Linked DNA regions of Homo sapiens. The protein of the gene in region 1 purifies or fractionates together with the protein of each later gene. This does not show direct contact. Each region holds a gene or a part of one and is shown on either strand. Other genes may lie near its edges. The genes, in order: IRAK2 and SESTD1.

Region 1 (16,136 bases):
GGGAGGCCTCAGGAAACTTAACAATCATGGTGGAAGGCACCTCTTCACAGGGCAGCAGGAGAGAGAATGAATGCCAGCAGGGGAAATGGCAGATGCTTATAAAACCATTAGATCTCATGAAAACTCTGTCACCATTGGCCAGACGTGGTGGCTCACGCCTGTAGTCCCAGCACTTTGGGAGGCCGAGGTGGGTGGATCACAAGGTCAGGAGTTCACGACCAGCCTGGCCAAGGTGGTGAAACCCTGTCTCTACTAAAAATACAAAAATTAGCCAGGCGTGGTGGCGGGTGCCTGTAATCCCAGCTACTCGGGAGACTGAGGCAGAGAATTATTTGAACCTGGGAGGCGGAGCTTGCAGTGAGCCAAGGTTGTGCCACTGCACTCCAGCCTGGGCGATAGAGTAAGACTCCGTCTCAAAAAAAAAAAAAAAAAAGAAAACTCTGTCACCATCATGAGAACAGCCTGGGGAAAATTACCTCCCATGATTTGATTAAACCCTCCCATGATATATGGGGATTACAATTCAAGATGAGATCTGGGGGGGACACAGCCAAACCGTATCAGGGCTGTTCCAGCAGGTCTGGATTACCCTGGCGTGGAGCAACTCCAAGCAGTAGGGAGGATTTTGAGAAGGTCTAGTGTGCCTCTGGGGCAGCTGTTTTCCAAATACTCGTTTATACTTGGCAGCCTCCAGGATTTCCACCCCCCTGATAGATGCAGAAAGCAGATCCCTCTGGAACAGACTCCAGTATTGGAAATAAATGTACATGTATGGGAGATTGCCCAAATTAAGTATGGCACTCCTAAATAAGCCATTAAAAAGGATAGGGGGCCAGGCGCTGTGGCTCACACCTGCAATATCAGCGCTTTGGGAGGCTGAGGCTAGAGAATCACTGGAGGAGAGTTTGAGACCAGCCTTGGCAACATAGTGAGACCTCCGTCTCTACCAAAAAAAAAAAAAAAAAAAAGGTAAAAAGAATAGGATAGGATAGAGGTTTACTCATCTTTCTGAGAGAGAAAGAGTAGCCACTTTTTTTTTTTTTTAATTTTTTTCTTGAGAGAGAATCTCATTGTGTTGCTGAGGCTGGAGTGCAGTGGCGTTAGCTCACTGCAACCTCCACCTCCTGGGTTCAAGCAATTCTCCTGCCTCAGCCTCCTGAGTAGCTGGGATTACAGGTGCACGCCACCATGCCTGTCTAATTTTTAATATTTTTCGTAGAGACAGGGTTTCACCATGTTGGCCGGCTGGTCTCGAACTCCTGACTTCAAGTGATCTGCTCGCCTTGGCCTCACAAAGTGCTGGGATTACAGGCATGAGCCACCACACCTGGCTGAAATTTTTATTTTTTAAATTATAATAGAGACAGGGTCTTGTCATGTTGCCCAGGCTGCTCTTGAACACCTGGGCTCAGGCAGTCCTCCCGCCTTGGCCTCCCAAAGTGCTGAGATTATAGATAGGCATGCACCACCACACCTGGCCTTATGTTTGTTTTTCTTAAAATTTTTTTTGTTTGTTTCTGTTTTTTTGTTTGTGCTTTTTTTTGCCTTTTTTCTTTTTTTTTTTCTTTCTTTCTTTCTTTTTTTTTTTTTTTTTGAGACAGCGTCTCACTTTGTCACCCAGGCTGGAGTGCAGTGGCGCTATCTGGGCTCACTGCAAGCCCCACCTCCTGGATTCACGCCATTCTCCTGCTTCAGCCTCCCGAGTAGCTGGGACTACAGGCGCCCGCCACCACGCCCGGCTAATTTTTTTGTATTTTTTAGTAGAGACGGGGTTTCATCGTGTTAGCCAGGATGGTCTCGATCTCCTGACCTCGTGATCCGCCCGCCTCTGCCTCCCAAAGTGCTGGGATTACAGGCGTGAGCCACCGCGCCCGGCCTCCTTTTCTTTTTTTTTGAGACAGAGTGTTGCTCTTGTCGCCCAAGCTGGAGTACAATGGCAGGATCTTGGCTCACTGCAACCTCCGCCTCTGGGTTCAAGTGATTCTCCTACCTCAGCCTCCCGAGTAGCTGGGATTACAGGCATGCGCCACCACGCCCAGCTAATTTTGTATTTTTAGTAGAGATAGGATTTCTCCATGTTGGTCAGGCTGGTCTTGAACTCCTGATCTCAGGTGATTCGCCTGCCTCGGCCTCCCAAAATGCTGGGATTACAGGTGTGAGCCACTACACGCAGCCATTTTTTAACAGAGATGGGGTCTCACTATGTTGTCCAGGCTGGGCTCCTGGGCTCAGGCAGTCCTCTCTCCTTGGCCTTCCAAAGTGTTTGGATTACAGGAATGAGCCATGGCACCCAGCCCATCACAATTTTAGATGTTCATCTTTGCTCCAGAAAATCTAGTTTTAGGAATTTACCTTAAGAAAGAAAAAACAAGTGTGAATAGATGTATGTATATGAAGTTTGCTGCAGTATTATTTAGAATAGCATAATACTGGAAATAAAAGTATACTGATAGGAGTTTGGGCACATATAGTATGGTGTTCCTAAATAAGCCATTAAAAGGGAAATAGTACTATGCTCATATAATGACAGGAAAAGCTATTAATTGAAAAAAAAACAGAAAATTAAATGTTAAAAAAATTTTTTTTTCACCATAGTGTCTGCAAAAAAGAAAATATGTTTAAAAAATTGGCCAGTCACGGTGGTTCACGCCTGTAATCTCAGCACTTCGGAAGTCCGAGGTGGGCAGATCACGAGGTCAAGAGATCAAGACCATCCTGGCCAACGTGGTGAAACCCCGTCTCTACTAAAAATACAAAAAACTAGCCAGGTGTGGTGGCATGCGCCTGTAGTCCCAGCTACCTGGGAGGCTAAGGCAGGAGAATCACTTGAACCCGGTAGGCGGAGGTTGCAGTGAGCCGAGATTTCGCCACTGCACTCCAGCCTGGTGACAGAGTGAGACTCCTTCTCAAAAAAAAAAAAAAATCATTTTGTATAGGACTAAAAACATGTAAAAGGAGTATATACTCCAAACAATAATGGTGATTCCTCAGGGATGAGGTTATGGGAAGGTGTTTGTTTTCTCTTTCTTTCTGTCTTTGACAAATATCACATGCTATCAGAGAAACCAATAAAGATATTTTTGTTAAAAAAAAATATAGCCGGGCGCGGTGGCTCATGCCTGTAATCCCAGCACTTTGGGAGGCCGAGGTGGGTGGATCACCTGAGGTCAGGAGTTTGAGACCAGCCTGACCAACATGGAGAAACCTCGTATCTACTCAAAATACAAAATTAGCTGGGTGTGGTGGCACATGCCTGTAACCCCAGCTACTCAGGAGGCTGAGGCAGGAGAATTGCTTGAACCCAGGAGGCAGGGGTTGCGGTTAGCCAAGATCACACCAGTGCACTCCAGCCTGGGCAACAAGAGCAAAACTCCGTCTCAAAAAGAGAGAAAAAAAAAGAAAAATATATGCAAAGTGCATAGAGAAGCTTTATTATTCTCCTTTCATCAGTCTTCCCTCCTGCTCCAGCTTTTTTTTTTTTTTTTTTTTTTTTTTTGATATGGAGTCTCACTGTGTCCCCCAGTCTGGAGTGCAGTGGTATGATCTTGGCTCAGTGCAGTCTCCACCTCCCGGGTTCAAATGATTCTCCTGCCTCAGCCTCCCAAGTAGCTGGGATTACAGGTGCGTGCCATCACGCCCAGCGAATTTTTTTGTATTTTTAGTAGAAACGGGGTTCCGCCGTGTTGGTTGGGCTGGTCTCGAACTCCTGACCTCAAGTGATCCACCCACCTCGGTCTCCCAAAGTGCTGGGATTGCAGGCATGAGCCACCATGCTTGGCCTCTGCCCCAGCTTTCTGATATGACTGGTTCTCAACTGTGCCAGCACATATTAGAATTATCTGGGAAGCTTTAAAAAACAGTAGTGCCTGAGCCCCACTCCAGAATAATTGAATCTGTCTCCCTGGAGGTAGGGCTAGGCATTTATACTTTTTAAAAGCACCCCAGATGTTTCTACTGTGCAGCCAGGGTTGCAAACCACTGACTATAATTTCAAGGGAATTAAACTTGAACAGCTCAAAATGACGTAAGTGTGTAATTAATTACATTCAGCCTCAATAACTGTTTCTAACTGATCCTGGTGGGTGTTGGTCATGGAAAATAGCCAGAGGAAGAAATTAACTGCAAGATCAGAGGAAATTTCTTGTGGTGAGGCAGTATAACACAGCAGAAAGAGCATTTGCTTTGGGTCAGACTTGAGTTGCATCCTGTTGATGCGGGACAGGCAAGCCCCCAAATTGGGGTTTAGCCTGGGAGGGTTCTTAGCTTCACCCAGAAAGGAATTCCAGGGCCAGCCAGTGGTGTTAAATAGCACCTTTTATTGAAATAGCAGTGTGCAGCCGCAGCAGAGGTACTGCTCCTTGCAGGGTAGGGCTACTCCATAGGCAGTGTGCCCAGAGTAGTGGCTCAGAGGCAGTTCTACAGTCACATTTATACACACTTTTAATTATATGCAAATTAAGGGGCAGTTTATGCAGAACATTCTAGAAAGGGGCGGTGACTTCTTGGAGTCGCCATGGCAATGGTAAACTGACAAGGTACACTGGTGGCAGTGTCTTATGCGAGGTACTTCCCACCACACCTGTTTTAGCTAGTCCTCAATTTGGTCCGATGTCCCAGCCATTCCTTTCGAGTCGAGTGCTGCCCCCTACCTCACTGTCACTTGGCCAACTTGGCCCAGTTACAATTGACTTCAGCCTCAGTTTCTTCATCTGTAAAACAGAAACAATAAACCTTTGCAGGGTTGTATGGATTACAGATAATGTATGCTAAATGCCTGCTAGGTGAGTTGGTAGGTGAAGGGCAACCATTAGTAATAGCAAAGACCTTACTTTGAAGAACTTATTCTAAAGAGTGGTAACTGAGATGTGTCCCTGTGATGACCTGCTCAGGCCCAAAATGACTCAAGCTTCTCTGGAAGACAGAATCCTAGGACACAGATCCCAAGCCCTGAGGCTGGGGTGAGAAGGAATTGCGGGAAGGGCCTGAGGATGCAGCAGAGAGAGCAGTGGGGGCTCCTCTGCCTTCCAGGATTGACCAAGGCTGAATGTGAAACTTCCGTGGTCTTAAAGCCTCACCCCAGGGAAGAGGCCCTGTGGCACTGAGGGAGGAGCTCTACACACACGCTGCTTGCGGAAGAGAAGGAGAAGCAGGTAGGGGACTCTGCAAAAAGAGAAAAGGAGAAAAAGAAGAGGATCTTTATTCTCTTTTACCCCCGTGTGCCTGGGATGGAGATGCTTCTCCACCCAGCCTATGGCAAACAATCATTACAGTTCCCAAGTCCACCTTCAGCCACTGCTGAAAACACAGGACTTCACTTGAAAAGTAGTCTCAGAACACTGAAATATGTCCCACTTTCAACATCAAGGAGGACATAATAGTAATCCTTTACTGGGCTCAGCACTTCACAGTTGATCTTGAGCGTTTTGGAGTCCATTTAGGCTTCATAACAATCCTTCCAAGTGGCTGCAGCAGGAGATCCAGTTTCCAAAAGGGAAAACAGAACTGGCTCAAAGGACTAAGAGCCGGAGAGTGGCTGAACCAGGTCTCCAAACTTGATAGGACTCCAAGGCCAGTGGGTGCCTTTTCAAGACCACTAATGACAGCTACCATTTTTTGGGCACATTCTCTGTGCGAGGAAAGCCCTGTAGTAGGTGTTCTATATAGGCTACATAATTTGATTTATTCCACTCCCCTCACAACTCTAAGCAGTAGGAAGGAGCAGGCCCACTTTACAGATGCTGGAAACAAGGCTTGACGAATGAAATGAGTTGTCCAGAGTCACAAAGCCTGTTGGTGGCAGAACTGCAACTTGGCCCTAGGACTTCTCACTTTGATTTCAGCTTCCTCCTTTTGCAGCGCTACTCCATAGCTGACGGCCACAGCTATACAGTGGTACCTACTCTAGTTACTTATCTGCCCTTCGTGACCTCGCCTAACCTCTTGGAATCTATTTACTTCTGTGTAAAATGGGGATAATAATATCTATAGTATAGGCTTGTAAGAATGACATAAGATCATTTTTGCAAAGTACATTGTAGATACAGATAAATGTATCTGTATCTACAATATACTTTAGCCAGTGGTGATGGAGAGCCTGGGGTCAGAATACTTAGGTTCAAATGATTTTAGCCATATTATTTAACCTCTCTGTGCCTTAGTTTCCTTATTTGTAGAATGGGGCTATAACCATACCTACCTCAGAGGGTCATTGTAAGGAGTAAGTAAAGTAACCCAGGTGAAGGCTACACATAGTAAGTGCTCAATAAATACTAGCTATTTTATATATGTGTGTGTGTATTTTATATATATATATATATATATATATATATATATATATGTATACACACACTATAAATTCTGTTCCTTGTACCCTCTTTGTTTATTTAGAGACAGGGTCTCACTCTCACCCAGGCTGGAGTGCAGTGGTGCAATCTTGGCTCACTGCAATCTCCACCTCCTGGGCTCAAGTGATCCCCCTACCTTAGCCTCCCAAGTACCTGGGACTACAGGCACATGCCACCATGCCTGGCTAATTTTTGTAGAGACAGGGTCTTGCTCTGTTTCCCAGGCTGGTCTCGAATTCCTGGGCTCAAGCGATCTGCCTGCCTCTGCCTCCCAAAGTGCTGGGGTTATAGGTGGGAGCCGCCGCACCCAGCCCCTTATACCCTATTTAATAATCCAGTTTGTCCTGCAGTCCCCTGCACCATACTCTGCTTTTTTCCCAGTAATAGTATCATCTAAGATAATGCAATTGGCCACTTGCACTCCCTTTTACCACCCTCTACTTTTATTCTTTCTTTTCTTTCTTTTTTTTTTTTTTTTTTTCAGAGACAGGGTCTCATTCTGTCACTCAGGCTGCAGTGCAGTCATAGCTCACTGCAGCCTCAAACTCCTGGGTTCAAGAGATCCTACCACCTTAGCCTCCTGAGTAGCTGGGACTATAGGTGTACACTACCATGCTTGGCTCATTTTAAAATTTTTTGTAGAGGCCAGGCGTGGTGGCTCATGCCTGTAATCCTAGCACTTTGGGAGGCCGAGGCAGGCGGATCACGAGGTCAGGAGTTCAAGACCATCCTGGCCAACACAGTGAAACCCTGTCTCTACTAAAAATACAAAAATTAGCTGGGCGTGGTGGCGCGTGCCTGTAATCCCAGCTACTCGGGAGACTGAGGCAGGAGAATTGCTTGAACCGGGACCTGGGAGGCAGAGGCTGCAGTGAGCCAAGATTGCGCCACTGCACTCCAGCCTGGGCTACAGAGCAAGACTCCGTCTCAAAAAAAAAAAGTTTTTTGTAGAGATAAGATCTTCCTATGTTGCCCAGGCTTCTACTTTCATTCTCCAACATAGCTTATCTGCCTATTTTTATTGCTTGTTGTCTGTCTCCCTCCAGGACAAGGATTTTGTCCTTCTCTTCAGAGGTATTCCCAGCACCTACAACAGTGCCTGGCACATAGTAGCTGCACGATACATATTAGCTACTATAGTAAAGTCTACCTGACTACCCTATTTAATAGAATATTCCCCATGCTCAATCTGAATTCCTGATTCCCTTTAACCAACTTTTTTTCCTTTTTTTTTTTTTTTGCAATAGTGCTTATTACCTTTAAGACACTCTGTAACATACTATATTTATTATTTATTGTTAGTCTTTCTCTCCACACCTAGATTGTAAGTCTTATGAAAGCAAGGGCTTTTGTAGGCTTTTTTTTTTTTTTTTTTTTTTTTTTGAGACAGAGCCTCACTCTTCACCCAGGCTGGAGTACAAGGGCACAATCTGGGCTTACTGCAACCTCCGCCTCCAGGGTTCAAGCGATTCTTCTGCCTCAGCCTCCCAGGTAGCTGGGACTACAGGCGTGCGCCACCGTGCCCGGCTAATTTTTGTATTTTTAGTAGTGACGGGGTTTCACCATATTGGCCAGGCTAGTCTCGAACTCCTGACCTCGTGATCCGTCCGCCTCGGCCTCCCAAAGTACTGGGATTACAGGAGTGATCCACCGCGCCCGGCTGTAGGGTTTCTTATTCAGGTATTACCAACACCTAGGGAGTTGCCTGGCATACAGTAGGTAATTAATGGAGTATTTGATGAGCGCATGATGCATGGTGTAGTGCCGATGGAAGTGGGGTCAGAAGGCCTCCTGCCGCTGCGGCAGAATTCCCGTGTGGCCTTCTCCCACCAGGGCCTCAGTTTCCCCTCGCAGTTCCGATTCTCTGGCCGGCGCTGGGGTGGAGCCGGCGGGGCCGTCGTGCCGCCCGTGGCCGCTGGGGACGCTGGTGCCCTCCCGCCCCGCCCACTTCCCCGCCGGTCCGCCCCTGGCTAGAGAAGCCGCAGCCCGCAGTGTCCGACCCAGTCGTCCCGCGCCGGAGCCGGCCCCGTAGCGTGCCATGGCCTGCTACATCTACCAGCTGCCCTCCTGGGTGCTGGACGACCTGTGCCGCAACATGGACGCGCTCAGCGAGTGGGACTGGATGGAGTTCGGTGAGTGCGGCCCGGGGAGGGGAGGGGACCAGGGCGACCGGAGCCCCCAGCGATCCCGCCTGGAGCGGCCGCCAAGCTCCCTCGGGCACCCGGGTTCAGCGGGTCCCGATCCGAGGGCGTGCGAGCTGAGCCTCCTGGACCGGGTCCGCCGCGGACCTCGGCCTGTCACCTGAAGGTGCCGCGTGGTCTCTGAGGACGTCTGTCGACGAGCAGGGGCCGCCGCCACTGCGCTCTGAGTCCAGAGAACGGTGGGTACGGGGGCCCTCCTGTCAGCGCTGCTGGCTCGGTGACGTCCCCAGGTGGCCTCTCATCCAGCCCACAACAGCCTGCAAAGTGCGAGCCTCGACCCTGTAGGGACCCACGGTGCTGTCACTTCTTGGGGGGGTGTGTGTGTGTGTGTGTGTGGTGTGTTTAGTTTTAGTGTATATTAGAAGGATCTATGATTTAACATATATATATATATTGAAACGGAGTTTCGCTGTTGTTGCCCAGGCTGGAGTGCAATGGCACGGTCTCGGCTCACTGCAACCTCCACCTCTGGGATTCAAGCGATTTTCCTGCCTCGGCCTCCCGAGTAGCTGGGATTACAGGCGCCCGCTACCACCCTGGCTAATTTTTTGTATTTTCAGTAGAGACCGGGTTTCACCATGTTGGCCAGACTGGTCTTGAACTATTTTTTTTTTTTTTTTTTTTTTTTTTTAAGACGGAGTCTCACTCTGTCGCCCAGGCTGGAGTGCAGTGGCGCGATCTAGGCTCGTTGCAAGCTCCGCCTCCCGGGTTCACGCCATTCTCCTGCCTCAGCCTTCTGAGTAGCTGGGACTACAGGCGCCCGCCACCACGCCCGGCTAACTTTGTATTCTTAGTAGAGACGGGGTTTCACCGTGTTAGCCAGGATGGTCTGGATCTCCTGACCTTGTGATCCGCCCACCCTGGGCCTCCCAAAGTGCTGGGATTACAGGCATGAGCCACCGCGCCCGGCCTCCGGAACTCTTGATCTCAGGCGATCCACCTGCTTCGGCCTCCCAAAGTGCTGGGATTACAGGCGTGAGCCACTGTGCCCAGCCTATTTATCATATTTGTGATTAAATGTACTTTACCATTATAGTTTTAAAATCAGATATTTACTTTTAGTGTACATTGTTTTGATCACAGTATTTATGACTATCAACCTGTTTTGAGATCAGATGTGTCCTAATAGATTCAGTGTGTATAATGGGGCCTAAGCACAAGCACTTACTTTCACTCTATTGCAAGGTGCACAGTTCTAGATAATTCCGTGGGAAGGCACTCAGACAGCCTCCATATGTTTTGTTTGTTGGTGCCTGACGGATGACTGGCGGAGAGGGCCATGGACTCTGCGGGGAGGCCGCTTGCCTGTTGTCTCTGCTTTCCAGGTGGAGATCTGCATTCCAGGCTCTTGCTGTATGACTTTGGGCCAGTTTGTTAACCTCTCTGAGCCTCAGCTTCTGAATCTGTATGTAAACTGGAGATGATAATTATAGCTTCTTCATAAAGTTGTGAGGAATGAAAATACTGTATAAAAGCACTGACACCTAAGTGTTAAATATTCTTATAAGTCATAAGTTGTAATATTCTCTTTTCATTTTTATTTTTTTGAGACAGTCTCATTCTGTGGCCCAGGCTGGAATGCAGTGGCGAGATCTCGGCTCACTGCAGCTTCCGCCTCTTGGATTCAAGTGATTCTCTTGCCTCAGCCTCCCGAGTAGCTGGGATTACAGGCATGTGCCACCACGCCCACTAATTTTTATGTTTTTAGTAGAGATGGGGTTTCGCCATGTTGGCCAGGCTGGTCTCGAACTCCTGACCTCATGTGATTTGGCCGCTTTGGCCTCCCAAAGTGCTGGGATTACAGGCGTGAGCCACTGCTCCTGGACCTGGCTTCACTACTTTGAATGTTTCCTGGGCAGTGAACAAACTTTGTGTGAGACTCCCTCTCATTTTTTCCACATTGGCCCAGCCCTCAGTTACAAATGCCAGAACAACTTCTGTTTCTAGGAAATTCAATTAGAAGGCATACCTATGACTTAAAAAAAAAATAAAGCTTTACTGAGATATTCACATACCATACAATCCACCTGTTTCAGGAGTACAATTTAGTGGTATTTAGTATATTCACAGGGCTGTGTATCCATCTTCACAATCAATCTTAGAACATTTTAATCACCCGAAGAAGAAACTCTGTACCCGTTAACTTCCAATCCCCTCCTTCCATTTTCCTGAGTTTTAGACATTGCCTATTTTGGACATTTCATATAAATGGAATCATATAATATATAGTGCTCTGTGACTGACTTGTTTCAACTAACATGAGGTTCATCCATGTTGTAGCATGCGTCAATACTTAGTTTCTTTTTTTTTTTTTTGAGACGGAGTCTCGCTTTGTCACCCAGGCTGGAGTGCAGTGGCGCAATCTCGGCTCACTGCAAGCTCCACCTCCTGGGTTCATGCCATTCTCCTGCTTCAGCCTCCCTAGCAGCTTGGACTACAGGTGCCTGCCACCATGCCCGGCTAATTTTTTTGTATTTTTAGTAGAGATGGGGTTTCACTGTGTTAGCCAGGATGGTCTTGATCTCCTGACCGTGTAATCCACCTACCTCGGCTTCCCAAAGTGCTGGGATTACAGGCGTGAGCCACCGCGCCCAGCCAGTTTCTTTTTATTGTAGGATAATGTTCCATGGTATGGATATACTACATTTCATTCATTTATCAGTTGTTGGGCATTGGGTTCTTTTCACTTTTGGGCCATTGTGAATAGTGCTGCTGTGAACACTCACATACAAGATTTTGTGCAGTGGTGCAAATGTAGCTCACCGCAGCCCCAACTTCCTGGGCTCAAGCGATCTTCCTGTCTCCTGAGTAGCTGGACTACAGGTGTGCACTGCTGCACCCAGCTAACTTTTGTATTTTTTGTAGAGACAGGTTTCACCATGTTACTCAGGCTGATCTTGAACTCTGGAGCTCAAGCGATCTGCCCATCTCACCTTCCCAAATTGCTGGGATTACAGGTGTGAGCCACTGCATCTGGCTTTATGTTTAACTATTTGAGGAGCTACCAGATGTTTTCTAAAGTGGCTGAACCACCAGTGTATGAGGATGACCATTTCTCCACATCCTTGTCAACATGTGTTATTTTTTTCTTTTTTTAATTTTTTTTTTTTTGAGACAGAGTCTCGCTCTGTCGCTGAGGCTGGAGTGCAGTGGCATGATCTCGGCTCGCTGCAACCTTAGCCTCCTGGGTTCAAGCGATTCTTGTGCCTCAGCCTCCCAAGTAGCTGGGATTACAGGCATGCACCACCGTGCCTGACTAATTTTTGTATCTTCAGTAGAGACAGGGTTTCACCGTGTTGGCCAGGCTGGTCTCAAACTCCTAACCTCAGGTGATCTGCCCGCCTCGGCCTCCCAAAGTGCTGGGATTACAGGTGTGAGCACCATGTCCGGCCTTATTGTTGCTTTTTTGATGGTAGCCACCTGAGCCAGTGTGAAGTGGCATCTTACTGTGGTTTGATTTGCATTTCCCTAATGACTAATGCTGTGGAGCATCTTTTCCTGTGCTTGTTGGCCATTTGCACATCTTCTTTGGAGAATACCTCTGCGAGGCTCCCCACTGGGATGGATATGATCTGAACACCTTGCCAGGCATGTTGACTCTGACACATCTGCCCAGTGCTGGCCTCTCTGACCTCCTCTTCTTCCACACCCACTGTCACTCCCCTGCTCCAGCCACACTGACCTCCCTGGGCCAGACACAGGGTCTTTGCAGGTGCTGTTCCCTCTGCCTGGGACGTTCTTCCCCCTGTGTTACCTGGGGCTAGCTTTCTAGTCTATTAGTTTCCTCCTGTTGCAGTTATAGATTACTACAATATCAGGGGAACCAGCCCGCAGTATTTCAATGTAGGTTCTTTTCTATTTTCCCTAAGTGTCGGCCGGTCTGAGAAATAAAGAGTACAAAGAGAGAAATTTTACATCTAGGCCTCTGGGGGTGCTGTTACACATTGGTAGGACCGTGATGGTGACCCCGAGCCACAAAACCAGCGAGTTTTTATTAGGGATTTCAAAAGGGGAGGGGTGTACGAATAGGGAGTAGGTCCCAGAGATCACATTCTTCAAAGGGCAATAAAAGATCACAAGGCAAAGGTGAAATTAGAATTACTGGTGAAGGTCCATGTCCCACTGGGCACGCATTGTCTTGATAAACATCTTAACAGGAAACAGGGTTGGAGAGCAGACAACCCGTCTGACTAGAATTCACCAGGCTGGAATTTCCCAATCCTAGTAAGCCTGAGGGCACTGCAGGAGACCAGGGCATATTTCATCCCTTATCTCAACTGCATCAGACAGACACCCCCAGAGTGGCCATTTATAGACCTACCCCGGGAATGCGTTCCTTCCCCAGGGTTATCAATTATTAATATTCCTTGCTGGGAAAAGAATTCAGCGATATTTCTCCTACTCACACGTCCATCTATAGGCTCTCTGTGAGAAGAAAAATATGGCTCTATTCTGCCCGACCCCACAGGCAGTCAGACCTTATGGTTATCTTCCCTTGTTCCCTGAACATCACTGTTATTCTGTTCTTTTTCAGGGTGCCCTGATTTCATATTGTTTAAACACCCACGTTTTACAATCAGATTTCATATTTTTCAAACACACGTTTTACAAACAATTTATACAGTTAATGCAATCATCACAGGGTCCTGAGGTGACATACATCCTCAGCTTATGAAAATGATGGGATTAAGAGATTAAAGACAGGCATAGGAAATTATAAGAGTATAAATGTCCATAAAATCTTCACAATTTATGTTCAGAGATTGCAGTAAAGACAGACGTAAGAAATTATAAAAGTATTAATTTTGGGAACTGATAAATGTCCATGAAATCTTCACAAGTTGTATTCTTCTGCCGTGGCTTCAGCCGGTCCTGTTCGGGGCCCCTGACTTCCCACAACACTACAAAGTTGGTGGCCTGTAACACCTCAAGTTTATTATCTCAGCATTCTGGAGGTCAGAAGTCCTAACTCAGGGTGGCTCTAGGGAGGAGTCGGTCTCCTGGCCTTGACTGGCTTCCTGAGGCCTGCAGCATCCTGTGGCTTATGGCCCCTTCCTCCATCATCAAGGCCATGGGTGTGTATCATCACATCTGTCTCTGTGACTTCTGCTTCTACCATCACCTCATCTCTGAATCTGATGTTCTGGCCTCCCCCTTACAGGGACCCTGGTAATTACCTTGGCCAGACCCAGAGAATCCAGGATAATCTCATCTCAGAATCCTTGATTTAATCTAACCTGCAAAGTCCCTTTTGCTATGTAAGGTACCATATTCACAGGTCTCGGGGCTTAGGATGTGGATGTTTTCCAAGGGTATTATTCTGTCTGTCACAGTCCTTCAGGTAAGCTCCTGTGGCACCTCTTTGAAATCAAGAGGACTTTCCTGCCCCTGTTCCTCTCTAGCCCATCACCGTGTTTCATTTCCCTCATTCCGCTTCACAGCCTTTGATGTCCCCTCGTTCCTGAATTTTTTCCACCTGTCTCTCCCTATGGAATGGAAGCCCCGTGCGGGCAGGGGCCTTACCTGTCTAGTTTTTCACTGCTGTATTCCCAGAGCCTGGGACAGTGCCTGGCTAGAGGGCAGGTGCCAGAATGAATGATGAGCTGCCAGGCCTTGGTGTGGTGAGGATGCGGGCTGCCCACTCTTACCCATTGGAGCTGGCCTGGAGCCTTTGGTCAGCCCACTTCCTACACTGGATCAGAGCCAGCGGTGCCTCCGGCCCACTGCTCCTCGCCCAGTCCCAGTGCTCCAGTTCCCTCTTCAGCTGAATGAACGAGTGACTGTGATTGACCCTTCAGTCCTAAAAATTCTTGGCTTCCTGTGGGTCATTTTAGAAAGAAGACAGTCCCTCAGAGCTGATGGTGATACTGGGAGAGTGTAGTGAGAACGCTAAAGTGATTCAGAAGATCCCGCAGCCACAGACAGCCACGCTCTTTCAGATCCGACACTTGTTGGCAGATAATCTGGCCACGCCTAGTTCTTGTCTCCGTGATGGCAGCTGCCTCTGTTGGGCTTTGCCTGAGCCTGTGTAAAAAGGGTTTCCTACAGCTTCAGCCCCAGGTGTGTGCAGAGGGGCTCGGCGCAGGGGCTCTTCTGTGTGTGGCCGTTCCCCGTCTCGTTCACTCATGCGTGTGCCAGCCTTTGTGCACAGCCCTGCTTTGCCCTGCCCAGCTGTGTGACATCAGGCAGGTGACTATCTCTCTCTGAGCCTTTAGTTTCCTCATCCATGAAGCACCCTCACAGTGTTGCTGAGAGGCTTAGGAGACTCAGCTTATTGTAAAGGGTCAAGTTAGGGCTTTCCTCATCCCCCACCCAGGGAGGGGTGTGGGCATTCGATTCTAAGATGGGTCATTTCAGGAGGCTGTGCCATCCCTGCTGTGGAGGACTTTGAAGACAGGCAAGGTTTTCTACTGCCTCGGGTGAACTCCTGCAGGATTCAGGAACTCAAGAGTGATAGTCCCTGTACTGTTAATCATCAGGGATAAAAACATTTTCAGGCCAGGTGCAGTGGCTCACGCCTCTAATTTCAACACTTTGGGAGGCCTAGGTGGGAAAATTTCTTGAAGCCAAGAGTTTGAGACCAGCCTCGTGATCCGCCCGCCTCAGCCTCCCAAAGTGTTTGGATTACAGGCGTGAGCCACTGCACCCAGCCTTTTTTTTTTTTTTGAGACGGAGTCTCACTCTGTTGCCCAGGCTGGAGTCCAATGATGCAATCTCAGCTCACTGCAACCTCGGCCTCCTGGGTTCAAGTGATTCTCCTGCCTCAGCCTCCAGAGTAGCTGGGACTACAGGCGCCCGCCACCACACTCTGCTAGTTTTTGCATTTTCAGTAGAGATGGGCTGGGCGTAGTGGCTCACGGCTGTAATCTCAGCACTTTGGGAGGCCAAGGTGGGAGGACCACGAGGTCAGGAGTTCGAAACCAGCCTGGCCAACATGGTGAAACTCTGTCCCTACTAAAAATATGAAAATTGGCCAGGTGCGGTGGCTCATGCCTGTAATCCTAGCTCTTTGGGAGGCTGAGGTGGGTGGATCATGAGGTCAGGAGATTGAGACCATCCTGGCTAACACAGTGAAACCCCGTTTCTACTAAAAAAAAAAATTAGCCGGGCATGGTGGCAGGCGCCTGTAGTCCTAGCTACTCAGGAGGCTGAGGCAGGAGAATGGTGTGAACCTGGGAGGTGGAGCTTGCAGTGAGCAGAGATCGCACCACTGCACTCCAGCCTGGGCGACAGAGCGAGACTCCGTCTCAAAAAAACAAACAAACAAAAAATTAGCCAGGTGTGATGGCACTCGCCTGTAATCCCAGCTATTCGGGAGGCTGAGGCAGGAGAATTGCTTGAACCTGGGAGGTGGAGGTTGCAGTGAGCTGACATGTGCCATTGCACTCCAGCCTGGGCAACAAGAGTAAAACTCCGACTCAAAAAAAAAAAAAAAAAAAAGGCCGGGCGCGGTGGCTCATGCCTGTAATCCCAGCACTTTGGGAGGCCGAGGTGGGTGGATCACGAGGTCAGGAGTTTGAGCCCAGCCTGGCCAACATAGTGAAACCCCGTCTCTACCAAAAATACAAAAATTAGCTGGGCATGGTGGCAC
Region 2 (15,955 bases), on another chromosome or scaffold:
AGTAAAATGCACAAATCTTAAATGTGTATTTTATTGTTTAATAAATTACAGCTTATTTATATGCTGGTGGAAATAATCCAGTTGAGACAGAAGAACTGATGGGAGACAGAGAAGATAACTGTGAGAGCAAAGCTTTGTGTAGGCAACAGAGATAGGCTGTAATGCACAAGTGGAGTGGTTGGCCTTAGAAGAAGAGACAGGCGGCTGATTATTACAGCTCTGAGGGCAGAGCATAGGGCTGTAGAAGAACGGAGGGTTGGGGATTTGTTGGTGGGAAGATGAAAGAGTTTTCCGATTACTTCCCAGTGAATTAAGATCTTTGGCTGAGAATGAAGAAGTGAAAAGGGAATTGGAGACTGATAGTGAAAAAAACATAAATGATCATGAGAATGAGAAAGTGAATTTACTAGAGAAACATAAAAGGATTGCCAAAGACTCATTTGAGATTATTTAGTCATAACTTTAAAAAGAGATCTGTCAATCCTTTTGTAGTTTATAAGCATGATGATGGGTGCTCACACTCATCTGAGATGTGTCTCCCTCTAAGCCTTGTAACAACATCAGCACGTTACCCTTCTGATGTGAGGGAAAAGAGAGAGAGCGCTATCCACCTAGTTGTTTTTAGTCTACCCATGTTCGGCTACTCTGGTACAGGCACACATTAGGCAGAGAAAACAGATCTCAGGTTTCAACAGGTCATTCTGATGGAAGGAAAGAAAGCCAGGCAGGGGCATGGGTTATATGCTGGGAGGTGGTTATAGCCTTTGATCAAGGATGGAAGTGAGGACAGAGGTTCTCATGTGCTGGATGGTAGAGAGGTCAGTAGATTGGTGGATTCCATGGGATTGTAGGTGTGAGCCTACAAACAGAGGTGAATGGGAGAGTCAATAGGTGGTCAGAAAATGGGTTTCATGAAACAGATTTTTGGAGCTACATAGTAGTATATGATGACACGTTTTTATGGCCAGTGGAAGAGGTAGCTGAGTTGAGGTGAGGACAAGTTAGTTGGAGGTGAGGGAGGGAGTCAAGGAACTGGAGGTTCAGGATGGTGGTGGGTGCCTATGTAGTGGAAGTCACTAAGAAGGCTGATGCTGAGAGGAAGGCAGTGTGACCTTTGCTAAACCCTTCTGTGGATGAGGTGATACCACACAGAAAGCTGAAAAGATGTAATCTAACAGCATGCACTTCAAAGGGGATACGGTTTTTTGAAAGAAGAGGGAAAATAAATGGTCTGCAAGTAGTGAGGAACGAGGCACCCAAACCCACCTTCAGGCTTGCAGTATGTCAGACATGGAAACAGTAATCAGTTGAGAAGGCTGCAGGGGTGACTGAGGGCGGACAGGTTTCACTTAGAGCAAGGAAGAGAAGAGAACATTTAGAGGTCAGGGATTGAGTTCCAGGGATCACAGGATTAGGAACTTTCCACCCTCAATTTTAATAATTTTGCCTTAGAAAAAAAAAATCATGTATTACTTAGTTTATCTGGAGAAATTATAAAATGTAATCTCTTCCAGGAACTAATTTGAGCCTTAGTTTACTTTGTAACATCTTGATTACAGGAATGGTTTGCAGTGTATGTGGAACTTAATCAGCAAATTGCAGCACTCTTGAATGCTGGCGATGAGGAAGATCTTGTGGAACTAAAGTCACTGCAGCAACAACTTAGTGATGTTTGTTATCGACAGGCCAGTCAGCTGGAATTTAGGCAAAATCTCTTACAAGCAGCTCTTGAATTTCATGGTGTTGCCCAAGATGTAAGTGTCTATTCTGATTCTTTTCTTTTCTTCAAATTATCTGAACACTTACCTACACGTAATTTTTTTCAGGTTTGCATGCCTCCTAAATTATTTTTCTGAACCAATAAAATGAATTACTGGTGGGGGTAATGAGATAAAATTCTTTGATTTTTTTTAAAAACAAGTATTTTTTAAGTCATTCTGCATGCAATTCAACCTTTTATTGTCTAACTAGAGTGTTCCAATCTAGTAGAATATTTTATTTTGACTCCTTCTCAATGTTTATGCTTTATAACTTAGATGGAAATGGAAGTCTCAATACTTTTTTGCATTCTGCTGACCTGAATGTACTTCTTTGTCTTCCTGGTGCATGCATCTGTGTGTTCTGTCTTCCAGATAATGCATATTCTAATGATTCGTCCTTGTCTTGTAACAGTGTAGTCTTTTCAAGTGTAATTGTGATAACCTCATTAGATATAAACCTCATTAATCATTAAACACTTTAGATGCTGATTACATCAGGGTTATCTCTTTGGTGTCCCTCTGCTTTAGTTGTCTCAGCAGTTGGATGGCTTATTAGGGATGTTGTGCGTAGATGTAGCACCAGCTGATGGAGCATCGATTCAGCAAACTTTAAAACTGCTTGAAGAGAAGCTGAAAAGTGTTGGTAAGCAGATTTTAAAAATGCTGAAACATAAGGTTTTTTTTTTTTTAAATATCATTACCATGGTTAGACAATTAAGTCAACTTACACTGAACTAATTAGTATTATTTTCAGGAAACAGAAAAATAGTATAAAAAGATTTTATTCCCTTGAGGGGTTATAATTTATGCTGAAAATTTTATTTTTCATCGTTAGTTAGTCACTCCTCCCTTCACTGGGCCTTTACCCTTGCCTGTTTACCCAGCTATATCTACAGGTGCTGTGTCTTGCATATACTATGAACAATTATTTGTAGTGCATGCATGAACTGTAATTAGCTGTGAAATGTTCTGTGGTAAATCCTGTATGCCCAAAATTGTGTTTTATGCAATGATTTTTGTTGTTGCTTTATCCTAACCTTGTGAAAAAATAGTTGGTTTGGTTTTTTGGTTCTTGTCTCACCAAACTGGGAATATTGTCAGATTACCCATTCTCCAAGGAGTGGGGTACATTTACATTAAGGGGTCCAGTTACATTAAGCTGATGTAGGCTTGATGTCATTTGACATCAAGGCCTTTAGAATTTTTCTACAGCAGGAAGCACAGTGAACTTTCCTAAAAGGTCAGGATGTGACAATGGGAAGGTGGGGAGTCGTATCAAGGGGGGACAAAAGGGGAAATGGCAATGGAAGAGAGGAAACAGGAACTTAAGGCAGAGAACTAGTAAAAAGTGGTTGCACATGACTAAACCAAATTATTGAAAACTGCCTTAGGGAATTGGTTTGAAAAATCACACTTGTACTGACATTTTACTTGCTTACAGCCTTTGTTATTTTATTTTTTTGAGATGGAGTCTTGCTGTGTTGCCCAGGCTGGAGTGCAGTGGTGCCATCTTGGCTCACTGCAACCTCTGCCTCCCCGATTCAAGTGATTCTCCTGCCTCAGCTTCCTAAGTAGCTGGGATTACAGGCACCTGCCACCACGCCCGGCTAATTTTTGTATTGGTAGTTATAGTAGACATGGGGTTTTGCCATGTTGGCCAGGCTGGTCTCGAGCTCCTGACCTCTGGTGATCTGCCCACCTCAGCCTCCCAAAGTGCTGGGATTACAGGCATGAGCCAGCGCACCTGGCCAGCCTCTGTTATTTTAACAGATGGTATGCATAATACATATTTAGTGTTTAATATGACAAATGAATTTTCTTTTAAAATATTAGTTTTCTTGAGCCACAGTCTTTGTTTAAAAAAAAAAAGTTCCTTTACACATGTAATTTGGAGAATTGTAAATATACCCTAATTGTTGCTTCCTATGGTATAGAAGCTAGACTGTATCTTTAGTCACAATGTTCAACATCCTTTGACATTGATGATACATTGCTGGAGTGTCTTAAAATTTTGCAAGGCTTATGCGCTTTTTTAAACAACATGTTTGCCTTGTTCTCCTATAAGTTGGACAGCATAAAAGCAGGAAGAAAAAACAGAAAATTGTTTTCTATTAGAAATAGGAATTTTCATATTTTTCTTCTGCTTTCATTTTTTAAAAGTAATTATTGTCTATGGAAACCCATGTTTTCAAAATTCCCTTTAGGGAGAATTTGGCATGAGAGAGAGCTCCAATTCGAGTTACATTTAAAGGGTTTTATTGCTTGAAATGTTCATAGGATGGAGTCTTGGGATTCCATCCCAAGGTGGTTTACTGTACAAAGCTCCTATACTTGGGATCCAGGTACAATATCTGATGAGACGATTTGTTTGAGGGAGGGAAAGCGCCTTAGTTGTGTAAGAGATTAAATCTAGTAACTTTTGTTTTAGATGTGGGATTGCAAGGTTTGCGTGAAAAAGGTCAAGGTCTCCTGGATCAGATCTCCAATCAGGCATCCTGGGCCTATGGAAAGGATGTAACCATTGAAAATAAAGAAAATGTGGACCACATACAAGGAGTGATGGAAGATATGCAGCTTAGAAAACAAAGGCAAAGTTTGACCGTTAATTACTTTTTACTAAAATAATAACAATATTAGTTAAAATGAAGTTATATAACATTTTATATACAGACAAAACGTTCTTAACTGTTATATAGAAGACATGTAGTAGGTTTTTGGTGAATGTGATAATTACTGTATATAATTTTACTAACATAGTAATAATTTATTCAATTATTAGGTACCATTTTCCTTTTTATTGGGTTGTAAAAATTTCAATTATACTCAACTATTTCAAATTCCATATCCCCAGTGTAGTCTATGACTCTTCTGCTTTAAAAAAAACTTACTGAAGAATAATTTTGCTTTTTAAATTTCATTTAGTTTAGAGTTGCCATTAAACTTGTCATCTACATTGATCTGTTTCTTCATCTAAACTTACAGAATGTCACACATTCATTGTTCTCATATTTGCTGTAGGAGGATTAAACAGTGGACTAGTGATGTTTAGTTTCATTTTCTATAAAACTAGGAATTCAAAAGATTCTTTGAAAACTCAGTTTGCAATAGCAACTACAAAGTATTGCAAAGTAAAGGATTAAAATTATGCAATATACACAATCTAGCATGGTTATATGAAATTTTGCACACTTAAAAATTTTATGATCATCAACAAAACTTCACAGAAAGCTTCCTTCTGCATCACAGAGAAAACAGTCATGAGGCAGAAATTTCTTCCCTCATATCTGCAAACTTACTTTTATTCTGTCACCACAGAGGATGATAGAGCTCTCCGTTTATATCAAAAAATATCAAAGCTGAGCTTCCATTTAGGCTCTGATTCTGATCACCCTCCTGACTCCTAACTCCATCAAATCCCATTCTCTACTCTGGTTCCTGCCCTCACTTAAATGCTTAAATTTCTCCTGTTTTAAAAATAATAATCACACATATGGGTACGTCTTCCTCTTCAACTCTTTGTCTTTTAGCATTAGAACTCTTCCTCACAGCTAAGTCATTTGGATAGGTTTACGGTACATTCATACTACTTCCCCCACTACCTCCAATTTATTTTCAACTCTTTTCAGTCTGACTTCTACCCTAACTATTTCATTCAGTGTTGCTCTTACCAGCATTACCAACGTAATAAATGCTGTATCTTACTTAAAGTTCAGAGAATACTTTTAGTCTTGACTTGCTTAACTGTGATTAGCGTTAGGCACAACTGACTTTTCGATTTCATCTTTCTTGAAAACACATTTATGATCCTTCTCTGTTTCTTCTTGGTTTTTGTCACTGATTTCTTGGCCACTAGCTAAAGTTACTGCTTCCAGGGTTTGTTCTGAGGCCAGATTCCCTTCTTTATATATTCTCCCTGGACATTCTCACTACTTGAATTACTTTCTTTAATAGATCATGGTTTAGTAGTTACAGCTCTCCCGTGCTGTAGACCCATAATTCCAATTGCCTACTTAGTGTCGCCTGCGGGATGCCCCATGTACTGCTGAAATCTAGTGTATTAGTCCATTCTTGCATTGCTATAAAAAACTACCTGAGACTGGGTAATTTTTCTTTTCTTTTCTTTTTTTTTTGAAACAGAGTCTCGCTCTGTCACTAGGCTGGAGTGCAGTGGTATGATCAAGGCTCACTGCAACATCCACCTCCTGGGTTCAAGCGATTCTTCTGCCTCAGCCTTCCGAGTAGCTGGGACTATAGGCGGGTGCCACTGCACCCGGCTAATTTTTGTATTTTTAGTAGAGACGGTGTTTCACCATGTCAGCCAGGCTGGTTTCAAACTCCTGACCTCGTGATCCGCCCACTTTGGCTTCCCAAGGTGCTGGGATCACAGGCGTGAGCCACCGCACCCGGCCGAGACTGGGTAATTTTTAAAGAAAAGAGGCTTAATGGGCTCACAGTCCCACAGGCTGTACAGGAAGTATGGCTGGGGAAACCTCAGGAAACTTCCACTCATGATGGAAGGTGAAGGGGAAACAGACACATCTTACTTGGATGGAGAAAGAGGAAAAGAGTGAAGGGGGAGGTGCGGCACACTTTTAAACAACCAGATCTCATGAGAACTCACTTACTGACATGAAAACAGCAAGGGGGATATGTGCCCCCATGATCCAGTCATCTCCCACCAGGCCCCTTGTATTTATTAGTCCATTCTCACGCTGCTATACCTAAGACAGGATAATTTATAAAGGAAAGAAGTTTAATTGACTCACAGCTTTGCAGGGCTGGAGAGGCCTCAGGAAACAGAATCGTGGTGGAAGGGGAGGCATCTAATCACATCCCACCAGGCTCCTCCTCCAATATTGGGATTACACTTTGATGTTAGATTTAAGTGGGGACACAAATCCAAAACCCAGATCCAAACCAGATCACCTAGTATGTCCAGACTGGAATCATTTTCCTCTAAAACTTGCTCTCCTTTTTTAATTTCCTGCCTAGGTTAAAGTTACCATCAGCTACCAAACTTGAGATTTATCCTAAAATCCTTCATCTTTCTCATCCCTTATAGCTTAATCAAATGTCCAGGTTCTGCTGTCTCTGAATCTCAAACATTTATGGTCAAGATCTTAAACTCTTATCTGCCTCTGGCCTGGCTACTCTCCAGCTTTTTGTATATAAGTGTAATTTTCATAAAGTACAACAATTGTGTAAAACTTCCTTCAGTGACTTCCTGTTTGCTCAGATGGAGTTTGTCTTCTTGGAATAATGTAGGAGACCCTTCATAATCCAATTCTTGCATAATTTTATCTTCTATAACATTCCCATAAAATCACACAGTTGTTTTTATCTCCCTGAAAGCATCATGCTGTTTCATGCATCCATGACTAAGAATACTTGTTTCCTTGTTTTCTGCTCAGTGAATTCCTACTTACTCTTCAAGACTCAGGGATACTTACTTTACTTTAGGAAGCCTTTTTGGACTTCTAAGGCAAGTTAGTCACTTGCTCCTCCCTACTCTCATAAAACATTTTAAATAGCTTTATAATAGTACTTATAACATCTCTGCAAATGGGAGCATCTTGATAGTAGAGACCATATCTTATATTTTCCCCAGCACACATTATCTAATACCTGAATACAGTATATGTATGATACCATCTTCATCAAAGTGGCCTACATTGTTTTTTAGTTTCATATTTAAAAAATAATTATCACTTCCCTTCAGTCCATTGTAGAATTACTTTAACCAAGTTGAATTTTAATGTCATGTTATAGCTTTTATTCAGAGCATCTTTATTTTTTTTTAAAAAAAAGCCTTGTGATACCTACTTCTATATTGTTATTAAGCTTTCTTTAAGGACATCAAGTATAGTAGAGCACAGTGTCTGGTAACATATTATCGGTATTTGAGACTGCAGTGGGAGTCCCCCATCCCACCTGCAGTACGCAGAATTTCATGGAAATGAAGGAAATGGACCAGAGTTAAGTTAGGTTAAGTTGCCTTAAAAATTTAAATGGTTATATTATCCAAAAAGACCACAATGAGATTAAAAAAATAATTTGAATTGTGTTTCTCTACACCCAGAGGTCAGTAGAGTTTTTTTGTTTTTTTAAGCCCTCCATCTAGTTTTTAAGAATGTAGATGGAGGGTTTTAAAAAAAATCAGAATTAAATATTATTTTAGGTACTATAATATAATGAAAAGCGTTAATGTTTAAATGTTTCTTTAGCTGGGCATAGTGATGCACACCTGTAGTCTTAGCTACTTGGGAGGCTGGGATGTGAAGATCATTTAAGCCCAGGAGTTTGAGGTTATAGTGAGCTATGATGGTACCACTGCACTCCAGCCTAGGTGCTTGAGTGAGACCTTGTCTCAAAAAAATATCATCCTGTATTTGAGAAACATTACACTTTTATCCTTGAAACTTGTTTGATGCTAAACAGCAATGGAGATTTTTTTTGGGTTTTAGTGTACTATTGTCCTTACATTTTGCTTTAATATTTTGCAGAATCCATGCTATCTTTAAGAGGGTTTGTCATTGAGTATCATTTGGGTATTTTGATGTTTTGATGTAACATTGATATAAATATCCCTAAAATTCTTACAAATCAATACAAAATACTTGCATTCTCCATTGTTTAGGACTAAGTATTTTAGTGTACTATAAAATACATGTACCAAATGATGATGTTACAATAGTAATCAATAAAACAGAAATGATGAGTTAAATTTATGTTTGGGTTCATTAGATGTGAAGACATGGTAGATGTGCGAAGGTTAAAGATGCTTCAGATGGTGCAGTTGTTTAAATGTGAAGAAGATGCTGCCCAGGTAAGGAGCAGTCAGCTACATTATGTAGTTAACTTTTCTTAGAAGATTGATTTTATCTAACTACAAACAAAAGTGTACTTTTCATGGTCCTAAAAAAGTAAATTCTTGAAGTCAGGTTCTAGTTTATCTATCTTGTTGAAGAATACACTTTGGTATTCCCAGCTAGTTGATTGATCTCATTTAACTTAATTTTCTCAATGAAATCCTCTATAATCCTCTATTGAGCTAGAGATTGGGATCGTTTATTATTTATTATTGTTGATTAGGTTGTCAGTTACATCCAGGATAAAATCTGGTGGAGCACACTGCATTTTGCTCTCTTGCATCTGCAAGAGAAATTTCAATACCAGATAAACAATTTGATATATTTTGTCGTTATCATCAGAGAACATCATTTCAGTTAGATATAGATAAAATTTTTGATTTTATGTAGTAACACAAATCTGTAATGCAATCCTGATGGATCTACATACAGAAATACATGATCTTTTATTATGTGATATTAATTTTAAAAGAATGCTTTTCTTCAGTATGTCTTGCCTTCAGATTTAAAGAATTTTGAGGAGTAGGACAGGTCATTAATTCATGTAGCTTATCATTGAATGAAATAAGCTTTTAAGACTTTAGGTTATAATTAACGGATTTATTAATCACATGATAGTAATCTCTGTATAAATGACATTTTGATACAATAAGTAAAGAGTTCTGAATCCAGCTTCATTGTTATGTCTTTTTGTTTAGGCAGTAGAATGGCTAAGTGAACTTCTGGATGCTCTGCTTAAGACTCACATCAGATTGGGCGATGATGCTCAAGAAACGAAAGTTTTGCTGGAAAAGCATAGAAAATTTGTTGATGTTGCACAGGTGCAAAACTGGTTATCTTCCTTTTCCACAAGCTCAGTGTTTGAATAGCTTTCTGCATGATTATAATGTAACTTTACCTTCCAAGTACAAGAAGGTTAGTTTTGTTATTCCAGAAGTGTCACAGAATTAAGAAAATGTCAGCTGGTGCATCAAAACTAGCCTGCATAAACTTGAGAGGGTTTACGTTTCCCTGAATACATGTTCTGCATGGTCCCTCTGATTTATGCTATGTATTACGGCATTTTTAAGGCAATCCAACTGTTCATCCACAGAAGTTAATATGAAATGGATGTTAATATCAGTAAATAAGAAACCTCACTTTCTGCATCACACTAGTGTTAGCATAATAATACAGAACTTTTTTGTGGTGAAAAGTGTCTTTTTTTTTTTTTTTAAGACACAGTCTTCCTCTGTTGCCCAGGCTGGACTGCAATGATGCAATCTCAGCTCACTGCAACCTCTGCCTCCCAGGTTCAGGCGATTCTCATGCCTCAGCCACCTGCGTAGCTGGGATTACAGGCACCGGCCACCACGCCTGGCTAGTTTTTGTCTTTTTAGTAGAGATGGGGTTTCACCATGTTGGCCAGGCTGGTCTTAAACTCCTGACCTCAAGCGATCCACCCGCCTCGGCCTCCCAAAGTGCTGGGATTACAGGAGTGAGCCACCGCGCCAAGCCAAAAAGTATCTTATTTTCCCTAATAATGAGTTCACGTTTTAACAGATGTAGTTTCCTATATGGAATATAAAGTGCCTAATTTCACCTACTTTTGAAAGTAGTTTTGATTAATTCATAAGCAGACATTCTTTCTGGCCAGTGAAATTTAAGCAGACTGCGATGGGGGAAACAGAATAAAGTGGGGAAGCCTAACAGAAGGAGACTTTTTTCTAATTAAAAATTTTAAAACAATTTTTGTTTTTTTGAGACAAGGCCTTGCTCTGTCAATTAGGATATGATGTTTCAGCACAATCATAGCGCACTGCATCCTCAAACTCCTGGGCTGAAGTGATCCTCCTGCCTCAGCCTCCAAGGTAGCTAGGACTACAGGCAAGTGTGGCCAAACTCAACTAATTTTTTTCATTTTTTTAGAGATAGGATCTTGCTATGTTGGCCAGGCTGGTCTTGAACTCCTAACTTCAAGCAATCCACCCACCTCAGCCTCCCAAAGTGCTGGGATTACAGGCATGAATCACTGTGCCTGGCCATGAAACTTATTATAAACTAACAAAAACATAGCTTCCCCTTTATTACTTATACACACAGATGATTTGTAGTAATAAGTGCCACTAGATTTATTCAGTATTGATTTCTAGTAGTGTCACTTAACTGTAACGACAATCTTCCTGCACACTTTCCCCATCCTTCTCTTAAGAATTCTTTTATTACAATTTTATGTTTCCTTTTCTTTTTTAGAGCACTTATGACTATGGCAGGCAGTTGCTACAGGCCACAGTTGTGTTATGCCAATCTTTGCGCTGCACTTCTCGGTCATCTGGGGATACACTTCCTCGACTGAACAGAGTATGGAAACAATTTACAATAGCATCTGAAGAGAGAGTACATAGATTGGAAATGGCTATTGCATTTCACTCAAATGCTGAAAAGGTTTGCTTGTGTTTTTGAAATGTTATTCTCAGTGGTATTGATTATATGTGTTTAAAATATGTTAATTTTAGTAATGTAACTATATGACTAATCTATTTTTCAATATTTATATTAGTTCCGTTGTTACGGTTTGTTTAGATATAATACATTGCCTTAGAGAGTTCAAATTAAATTTCCTTAATCCTTACCAGTGCTGGAGAGCCATGATTGGAGAAATCCAGAACCACCTGGTAGTCTTCTTCTCTTTACACTTCTCTCCTCACCAAGCCTGGTGTCCAGAATATGCCCTCTGTTCTTTAGAGTATCATGAGTTCAATCTCTTTCGTTATGCCTGGAAGGGAAACTTTTTGCTTTGGCAACTGCTATTAATTGTCACACATTTTTTAAAAGGCACCTTGTGATTTTATAAAGTCGGGACATTAAAAAAATAAGAATAAGGACAAAAGTAAAATGCTTTTTTATATGTGTTCTTTAAAGATTCATTCTAGAATTTATTATTCAATGAATTAAGGTCATTAATTTCAGAAACAAAAAATAAAATATGCAGGGTTATTTGGACACATTTTCAATAGAACTTTTTTCTTACTCTTCATAGTAAGAATTTATTCTACCCAAGCCTTACATATCCATTCTGAAAAGGAACTTTATTATGTAGTTAATTTTGTTTTGATCTCTTACAATAAAAGTTTATATGTAGGGAATGTTCGATACACTTTGAGATATTAGCAAACCTAACTTGATCCATGGAACAGATGTTGCAAGGAACCTCAGGAATTAAAGTTTCTATCTGAGTTATGAAGTACATCTGTTGGGAAGGGTCCATAGTTAACTCATTCTCAGCTGGTCATTGAACTCCGTAGATCAGTGTTTGATTAACATGGGCCTAATGATGATAAGTGGAAGTATACAAAATAGTGTAACTTGTTTATCTACTGATTGTTTCAATGAGAATTTTTTATTATTATGAAGTATACTATTAACATAGAAAACATACCACAAGTATTCTGTGCAGTGAGATTTCATAAAGTGAACACACCTGTGTACTCAGTGTACTGTTCAAAAAAAACAGAACATTACCAGCACCCAGAAGCTCCCCCCACCCTGTGTAATCACAGTACTGCTCCCCCAATCACCTCACTGTCAAAGGGTGACAATTGGCCCAATGTCTAGCACCACTGATAACTTTTTTTTTTTTTTTTGAGACAGAGTCTCACTCTGTTGCCCAGGCTGGAGTGCAGTGGCATGATCTCAGCTCACTGCAGGCTCCACCTCCTGGAGCTTGTTGTACAAACCTAAGTAAAGCCCTTTGTTATCAGATATTACTTTCCTCTTGACTGTATTCTATTTTATACCATAAGCATAAATATAAATAACCACAACTATAAGCAAATTGTATAGTATAATGATTAGAAAAATATCTAAATTAAATCTTGAGTTTTAAAATACAAAAATGTCCGTTCATGAGTAATGCTGAAGTAAACATGATTAGATAAAGTGTAATGCAAAAAAAAGTTGTAAAAATGAATACTTTTTATTCTCTCTCTCAAATTTTGCAGTTCTTGTGGTTTAATTTAAATGGTAATGGTTAGGGTGGAGTGAAGAACAGTATCTCATCAAGGACTATAGAGATTACCATATTTGAATTATAACCTAATCATTTTATGGCAGTTAACTCAAGCCAGCAGATCAGTTGTTAAATATTATCATCTAGCTGAGTTGTCACATCAGTTATTTATTTGTACTCTTTGTTGTTTTTTATTTATATAATTTTTCATTTGTAATGTCTATATGCTCTTTGAGAACACAGTCTATACCTCCTTCACCTTCCAGACTGCTACATAAACATAAACTGTTCAATAAATGGTTACTTAATATAAATGAAAGAATACTTCTTAAGGACAGATTGAACTTATTTTCCAAATAGTAGTCTAGTTATTTTCTTTCTTGGAAATCACCATATTGTTAGTAGGAATTATGTATTTCATTTTGTTTGTTTGAATTTCTTGAAGAATTTTGCCAATAATAGATCAATCTTATATAGTGGTATACCTGAAGATGCTAAGAACAAGAAAATGCCTTTAATCTACCAAATTTGTATGAGCTTGATTCCATTTCTGTGTCTTTCTTTTCTCTCTTTTTTTTTGTGGGGTGGGGTGATCCTCTGAAACTGCAGACCTGTCTGTGTCTCTTGATTGATGTTGCTCTTTTATTTGTTGCAGATTTTGCAGGACTGTCCAGAAGAGCCTGAAGCTATTAATGATGAGGAGCAATTTGATGAAATTGAAGCAGTTGGGAAATCACTTTTGGATAGATTAACTGTTCCAGTAGTTTATCCTGATGGGTATGGGGCATGTTCTTATAATTTTATTTTTTATTGGTGTGGTCTTAAAGTGAAATCATTAAAAGAGGAAATCTATTCTTTAAAAAGCCAAGTAAATTAGGTTTGGTCCACATCTTTAACTCCTACGATGAATTAGTTTAAAATGAAAAGAAATCCACACCTCTTAGCCACAGTAATGGTACTTGCCAACAACAGATGCGTTACTTCTTGACAGCTTGTTGTAGAATGATCATTGACTAGATTAAGACACTGGGTTCTAGCCTTGGCTATGATGGTGGGGAATAGTGTGACTTGGGGCTTCATTCAGGAAAAGGAAGAGGGGACAAGGGATTGATGTTTAGTGAGTTCACAATATATGCCAAGTACCAAGTGAAACATTTCACCTTCATTACTTTTGACCAAAGAGGACCAAACCAGTATGATTATTCCTGATTTACAAATGAAGAAACTGAGGCCCACAGAGATTAAGTAAGGCTCTCAGGATTTCACAGCTTCTAAGAGTTAGCATAAACTTACAATCTCAGGTATGTCTGTGTGGCTCCAAACCCATTCCCTTTGTACTGTGTTATATGGCGTTCTAATTTCTTTATGTGTGAAGGAATGGGGTCCTGATTATCTTACACCTTTCCATTTCAAATAGTGATAAAAATATGAAATAATCTGATGCAAAATAAATGGATCAGGAAAAGAATCAGGAAGAGCTTCAGCCGGGCGTGGTGGCTCACGCCTGTAATCCCAGCAGTTTGGGAGGCCAAAGCGGGCGGATCACAAGGTCAGGAGATGGAGACCATCCTGGCTAACACGGTGAAAACCCATCTCTACTAAAAAGACAAAAAATTAGCTGGGCGTGGTGGCGGGTGCCTGTAGTCCCAGCTACTCGGGAGGCTGAGGCAGGAAAATGGCATGAACCTGGGAGGCGGAGCTTGCAGTGAGCCGAGATCACGCCACTGCGCTCCAGCCTGGGTGACAGAGCAAGACTCCGTCTCAAAAAAAAAAAAAAAAAAGAATCAGGAGGAGCTTCATCCCTGGTGATTTAGACCTGATTCTTACTGAAAATAATTTAGAGATAATCCAGAGGATATTTAATTCAAATGATAGAGTAACCAAACCAGTAAATAAAAATACAAGTACCTTTAACGTTGTGGTATAGTGTGATGAGTCTGTGCACTCTGGAGCCAGAGGTCTCAGCTCTACCACTTACTCACTGTAACACCTTGGGCAAGCCACTTAACCTTTGTGCCTCAATTCCCTCATCTAAAAACTGCCATGTAACACTCATACCTTCCTCAGGTTATGGGGGTGTGGGAATTACCTGAGCTAAATAAGTATAAAGTACTTAAAACAGATCTGACACATAATAAGCACTGCTACTACTGTGCCATGATCTTCCAGTGATTATTTGGGATTGATATTGAAAAGATGGCATTTTATTCCCTTGAAATAATATTATTCATAGTCTATACTTACGTTATCTCAAGCCCCACCTAAACTTGAACAATCAGAGGTAGCCTAAAGTCACCTAAAGTTGTATTACACATCTGCAATAAAAGACAACAAAATTCAGCTAGTAGCAGAATTACAGGCGTGCTTCTGGTTGTTCCATTCCAGGATCCCTTACCCTCCCTGATTCCTACATTTCACAGCCAGTTGTCACACAGTCAGTCTCCTGTTCTACCCATGTCAGCCTAGGAACACCTCTCCCTGGTATGCTTGCTTCAGCTTCTCGTCTGTGTTTCACAGATAGTCCATGTGTCATTTCCTCATCCATCCTTTTAAGATAAAAGAATGTTAGTACTATATATTCAAAGTTCACACCCACCTTTAATATTTTGGAATTGCTGTTTTATTCCACTTTATATTCATATTAAAACTTATGTATATCTCTTTTAGGTATTTTGCTGAATTAAATATTTCCCAAAGTTGTGTGTAGTGTTTTCCATAATTATTAATATAATGGTAATCTGTTTATGCCATGTATAGTTTGTTTGACAGGTTAGACAGATTTCTCTTTTATACCTTCTCCTGGTAAAATAAAAGAGATTGATGGTCTCTCTGGATTCACTGCTCAAAGACCTAGGTTCAAATTCTGGTTTTTCCCTGGGTGACCTTGCTTACATCATTTAACTTGCTAGGCTCCACTTTTCTGATCTGAAAAATAAAGAGATTAACCTGATAATTTCTAAGAAATCTTCCAGCTCTAAAAATATTCTGTGATTCTGAATACAGTATCTTTGAGAGTAGAATAAAATTAATAATTTTATCTGTTAATGTACCAAAAAATGTCATAACATTAAAAAGAATATTTATTTTGCTTGCCAGCTCTATAGACAAGTGGTGTCCCCAGCCGGTAGCACTCAAGTACCTGTATAAATTTTATGTTTGTGCATCCTTCTGGACCCACATATTTCCAGTGTTTCATTGTTCAATTTGTTGCTATTATCATAACTACACATGATATAACCTTTATACCATCAATATATTTTTCTCATCATGTCTTAATGTATTTTATGCCATTTTAAAAAATGTTTTTCCTGCTGAATTTCCTGCTCAAACAGTATGAT

What was found.
Region 2: the proteins of IRAK2 (region 1) and SESTD1 purify together in Homo sapiens (affinity purification with mass spectrometry; 3 studies listed by BioGRID and IntAct, with this or other methods). This does not show direct contact.

What each region holds. Positions count from the first base shown.
Region 1 is NC_000003.12:10,156,573-10,172,708, forward strand, and holds the start of IRAK2 (interleukin-1 receptor-associated kinase-like 2), read left to right. Parts: upstream 1-8,346; 5' UTR 8,347-8,382; coding exon 8,383-8,476; intron 8,477-16,136. UniProt on the Homo sapiens protein: Binds to the IL-1 type I receptor following IL-1 engagement, triggering intracellular signaling cascades leading to transcriptional up-regulation and mRNA stabilization.
Region 2 is NC_000002.12:179,110,163-179,126,117, reverse strand, and holds part of SESTD1 (SEC14 domain and spectrin repeat-containing protein 1), read left to right. Parts: intron 1-480; exon of another isoform or gene 481-582; intron 583-1,559; coding exon 1,560-1,754; intron 1,755-2,288; coding exon 2,289-2,403; intron 2,404-4,188; coding exon 4,189-4,348; intron 4,349-8,504; coding exon 8,505-8,586; intron 8,587-9,327; coding exon 9,328-9,450; intron 9,451-10,861; coding exon 10,862-11,053; intron 11,054-13,272; coding exon 13,273-13,394; intron 13,395-15,955. UniProt on the Homo sapiens protein: May act as the primary docking protein directing membrane turnover and assembly of the transient receptor potential channels TRPC4 and TRPC5.